2 separate regions of the Homo sapiens genome follow, and region 1 is linked to region 2. The links come from fine-mapping of genetic effects on gene expression. A gene starts in region 2. The other region holds a variant in brackets. All regions are shown on one strand. Distances are from middle to middle. Region 1 overlaps DDHD1 (DDHD domain containing 1). Region 2 holds the start of DDHD1 (DDHD domain containing 1).

Region 1 (2,500 bases), 77 kb before region 2:
AAGCCTGGATAGCAGCACATCTTTTTTACAGCATGGCTTACAGAATATTTTAAGCCCACTGTTGAGACCTACTGCTCAGAAAAAAAAACGATTCCTTTCAAATGGTTACTGCCCGCTGACAATGTACCTGGTCACTCAAGAGCTCTGATGGAGATGTACTAGGAGATGAATGTTGTTTTCATGCCTGCTAACACAATATCCACTCTGCAGCCCACGGATCAAGGAGTAATTTTAACTTTCAAGCCTTATATTTAAGAAACAAATTTTATAATGCTATAGCTGCTATAGATAGTGGATGAATCTGGGCAAAGTAAACTGAAAGTATTCCGGAAGGAACTCATCATTCTAGATGCCATTAAGAACATTTGTGATTCAGTGATTCATGGGGGGTGAAAATATCAACATTCCAGAAGTTTGGAAGAAATGGATTCCAACCCTCATAAATGACTTTGAGGGGCTCAAGACTTCAATGAGGAAGTAACTGCAGATGTATTGGAAATAGCAAGAGAACTAAAATAAGCAGAGTGTGAAGATGTGACTGAATTGCTGCAATTTCATGAGAAAACTTCAGTGGATGAGGAGTTGCTTCTTATGGATGAACAAAGAAAGTGGTTTGAGATGGACTCTTGGTGAAGATGTGAATATTGTTGAAATGGCAACAAAGAATTCAGAATATGCCATAAACTTAGTTGATAAGGCAGTGGCAGGGTTTGACAGGATTGATTCAAATTTTCAAGTAAGTTCTACAGTGGGTAAAACGCTCTCAAACTGCATTGCATGTTACAGAGAAATCTTTCGTGAGAGGAAGAATCAATCGATGTGGCTAACTTCACTGTTGTCTTATTTTAAGAAATTGCCACACCCACCCCAAACTTCGGCAACTACCATCCTGGTCAGCAGCCATCAACATGGACGCAAGACCCTTCAACAGCAAAAAGATGCTGTGAACTCACAGAA[G/A]CCTCAGATAATTGGTTAGCGACATTTAGCAGTACAGCATTTTAAAATTAAGATATGTACACGATTTTTAAAGACATTATGCTATCACATACTTGTTTACAGTGTCGTGTAAACATAACTTTTATATGCACTGAGAAGCCAATTTGTGCAACTTGCTTAATTATGATATTCACTTTATTGCAGTGGTATGGAACCAAACCCACAATATCTTTGAGGTATACCTGTAATTTTTTGTGTATGTGTCCTATAGAGTTACTCAGAGTCCGATTTTCATTCACTGCATCCCTATGGTGTTGTTTAACATGTTCTTTGTCCCGTTTCCTATAATTTGGTAGTTAGTTATAGGGGCTTCATCAGATGCAAGCTCTGTTTTGGCGAGACTACTACTCCATATGTACATAGGTACACACAACTTCTTCTCTTTTTAGTGATGATAGCAGTTACTGATGATCATTGTTTAAATCCATTAGTTTATCATGGTGGCAAAAGGGCCTTTTAAATTCCATCACTCTTCATTTGTTTATAGGCTTATACTTCTAGAAAGAGAAATTTCCTTACATTAAATATTTAGCTGCACTGGGGTATAACCAAATAGTTTCTGCATGAACTGAGGCACAGTTAATCTAGAAAAGGTAGGATAAATGGTTAATTCTTCCCTTTATTAACAGTTTTCAAAATAACAAGTCATTAGGTTTTATATATTTTGATGTCATTGCTAACTCACAGATTTAAGCATATTTGATGCATATCAATCCACTGTAGTTATTATCCTTGCCAAGGTTCAAATTGTCTATTTTAGGTCTGTGAATCTCTCCAAGTTGCTTTTGACACAACTTCATTAGTTTTTGTTTTTGTTTTTTTTTTTTAAAAAACAATTGTGGCTTTTAGTATATTCAAAGAGTTATGCAGCTATCACCATTATCTAATTTCATAACACGTTCATCACCCCAGAAAGAAACACCATACCCATTAGCAGTCACTCTCTATCCCTCTTCTTCCCACCTGCCAGCACCCACTAATCTACTTTCAGATTTGTCTATTTTGAACATTTCATATAATCATACAATATGGGGCCTTTTGTGTCTGGCTTTTCAGTTGGTGTAATGTTTTCAAGTCTCATCCATGTTGCATCATAAATCAGTACTTCATTGCTTTTCATTGTTGAATAGTATTTCATTATATGGATACGCCACTTTTGTTTAGCCGCTCATCAGTTGATGGATGTTTGTGTTGCTTCCATTTTTGGGCTATCATGAATAATGCTTCTATGAACATTCTTTTAACAAGTTTTTGTGGACATACATTTTCAGATCTCTTGGGTATACACATAAGCAATATTACTGGCTCATACACTAACTTTAACTTTTGGAAGAACTGCCAAACTCTTTCCAAAGCAGCTGTACTATTTTCTGATCTCACAAGAAACATGTAAGGGTTGTGATTTTTCTTCATCCTAGCTAATACTTGTTAATTTCCATCTTTTTGATAAGAGTTATCCTAGTGGGTATAAAGTGGTACCTTTAAAGTGGTAGCGTTCAAGGTC
Region 2 (2,929 bases):
CAGTACACCGGGTAGCACTCTCCTTGGGTCACATCCACCTCGTAGAGGCCGCCCCGCACGCACACAGGCTCGATGTTCACAAGCTCCACCATCTCCGGCTCGTGCCCCGTCGTACTCTGGCAGAAGCCGCAGGCGCGGTCCTCATCGTCATCTTCTCCGGAACTGGAGGCTGGGCCCGTGGGGGAGCACACATGGTCGCCGTCCCGGTCCCCGCCCTGGGGCCGGGCACCCGTGGTCTGCAGCAGGGTCCGGAAGGCGAGCTCGATGCGGAGCGAGTCGTAGCCGATGAAGGGCTTCCAGGTCTTCTTGTCCTCCTTGTAGAACCAGCGTACCTCCTCCGGGCCCAGCTCCGTCACTACCTCATAGCGGTGCCGGGCCGCCGGGCCGCCAAGCCGGGTACGTTTCCTTTCCCCGGGGGACCCTCCTGTCGCGCCGCCGCCCCCCGAGTTCGTCGGGACCAGCGGAGGCTGCTGCGGCGGGTGCAGCGACAAGGAGCTGCCGCCGCCGCCGCTCTCACCCTCGCTGTAGTAGCGCAGCGAGGAGCCCGACTCGGCGGAGCTGAAGTCATAGTTCTCGTCACTGAGGCAGGGGTCCAGCGCGAGGTGGTGGTTGTGGTCGTCGGTGCCCGGCGCCAAATGCAGCCCGGGTTCCCCGCGCAGCAGGGCCAGGGGCACGTCGCCGTCGTCCGGGTCCCCGCCGGGCAGGTGCTCGAAGCAGCAGACGCCGCCGCCGAACGCTGGCCTCGCGTCTGAGCCCAGCTCCCAGGCGCCGCCGCCGCCGCCTCGGCCGTTATGCTCGGGGCTCCGTGGGGACCCGCGGCCCGGGTAATTCATGCTGTGGAGACGCCGCCGGCTGTCCGGCGGCGCGCGGAGCCGTGACCCCCAGCGCTTCCGCCACACATTCAACGCCGCCGCCCTCTCCACCCGAAGTTTCTAATCTTTCAAATCCCGACCCGAGCTGCGGCGGCAGCGGCGACCGCTCCGCCCCCACGAGACCCGCAGCCGCCGCAGCTGCGTTCTGCCGCCGGCCCCATTGTCACGCAGCCCGACGTAGGCGGTGCTTCGGCCCCCGCCCCGCCCCCCGGCCGCGTGCGCCGCCCCGGAAGCCCGGGCTGCACCGGCGCCGCGCGCGGGGTTCCCCCCTGCCCCTCTGGCTGGGAGGGCAGGGTGGTGTCAGGTCGCCCGCCGCTCTTGGGCCTCCTCGGCTCCCTTCCTCCTTCCTTGCGGTCTTCATGCACAGCTGCCTCGGTCCCCCGCTTCTGGAATTCACAGCCCAGATGTGGATAGGCTTTACCCCACTCATCCTTACAATGTGGGTCATGAGCCCAGAGCCTTAAGCTACGTGTTAGGAGGGCCCCAGGATGTAGGATTCAGCATTGCTCTTTTTGACCTTAGGCCCTACTGCGGCCTCGCCTGGACGTTTTGTCACCTGGCCCTGGTGCCTCCAGACAGAACCAGGACGCATAGGTGGGTGGATACGAGGGCACTCCACCCCACACCCATCACTCACCTTGGTGTCACCACTCCCACTGGGAAACTGGAATCTAAACCTTGCTTCATATGCCATCTCATATTATTACTTATCTTTTGATGCTTGGATTTCCTGTTTTCTCAACCTCATTGCTAGGCCCTTGATGGAAACCAAGTCCATGTCAGCCTCTCCCACACAGTGGGTGCGCAATCAGTCTTAGTTGATTATAATGATGTCAAGTCCAACCAGCTGTGGTAAAGAGTGTTCGATTGAGAGGTAGAAAACAACCAGGTTCTAGATTTAGCTTTGCTAACCATCCACAGGCAAATCACATAATCTTCCTGATCTTTTTGGTTTCCTCATCTGTAAAATTAAGATTCTTGGACCAGATGATATCTAAAGTTCCTTCTAGCAATGGAATTCTATGAACTTTAAGGTTTCTTCCAGATTTTTATGCATCTCTGATTCTGTAACTCATATTCTGGGATCAAGTTGAATACAGAGGCTCCCTTATGTGGGTCTTTTTTATTTAAAAAAAATTATTTTGTAAGCACATCACCCTATGTTGAGAATCCAGAGAAAAACCATCTCCAACCTCAGTGTTTTCATTTTAAGAATAGACAGTCTTCACTATTTCTTTTACTCTCTGGTGGAATCAGATTGGTAGGGCAATTTTTCTTGCTCCTGAGATGTAACCTGTCAGACATTATTACTCTGTCATTATTTAAATCAAGACTATCTGAAGTTTGTACAGGGCCTTTGTAGGAATTTGAAAAAAGGCATTGCTTCCTGTGGGCAGATACAGAGCGGTGTTGGAGTTGATGGCTTGTCAAGTAGAATACAGGCTGGATTTTCTGCCCCAATTAGTGCCCTTAGCTGGTTAACCTTGTGCAGTGAACAACCTATCCAACTGTATACTGCAGCTCTGACTGAAAGCATCTAAGATCAGGACCCTCTTTACCACTCAAAAAAAATTTCTGAGTGCCTGCTTCCCAGTTGCTCCTCCAGTATTTCTATTGACAATATGCAGCATATGATATTGGGTATGGGCTTTGGTCTGTTTACTAGCTGTAAAAGCATTCATTCTACAGGGTTTGAATAGGTGTCTGGCCACCTATATGCCAGGCACCTCTATGCTAACTTCTACTATAAGAGAGAATGGGAGAGAGTTCTTTCTTTCTTCAAGGAACTTACAGCCTAGAGGGGGATACAGACAAGTAAACAGATACATTATATTATAGTACAGTATGAAAAGTACTATGAAGGGGATTATAAATAAGGAATATCACAACATTTAAAATATCTCTATTCCTTTATGTTTCTTGATAGAATGTAGCCTAACTATATAACTATCTGGTCAGATTATTTTGGCCAGATTTTAACTCTTGACTACACAATTTCCGTTAACATTATCCTCTGTTAAAAAAAAAAAAAAAAAAAAAAAAAAAAAAAAAAAGAA

Evidence for each region. PIP is the estimated chance that this variant, and not a neighbour inherited with it, causes the effect.
Region 1: its variant is the best candidate, but not a certain one, in a credible set for the expression of DDHD1 in whole blood (TOPMed, PIP 0.56).

The regions. Positions count from the first base shown.
Region 1 is chr14:53,075,859-53,078,358 of GRCh38, forward strand. The region is part of intron 4 of DDHD1 (DDHD domain containing 1); the gene reads right to left. Among named protein-coding and RNA genes, the nearest start is that of DDHD1, 76 kb to the right of the region's middle. The variant G/A (reference allele first, on the strand shown) is at 958.
Region 2 is chr14:53,152,266-53,155,194 of GRCh38, forward strand. DDHD1 (DDHD domain containing 1) reads right to left here and starts at 1,058. Exons shown (of 13, transcript NM_001160148.2): 1 at 1-1,058. The coding sequence starts at 833. DDHD1-DT (DDHD1 divergent transcript) reads left to right here and starts at 1,089. Exons shown (of 3, transcript NR_110062.1): 1 at 1,089-1,466. RefSeq lists an enhancer at 1-83 and a silencer at 904-1,233.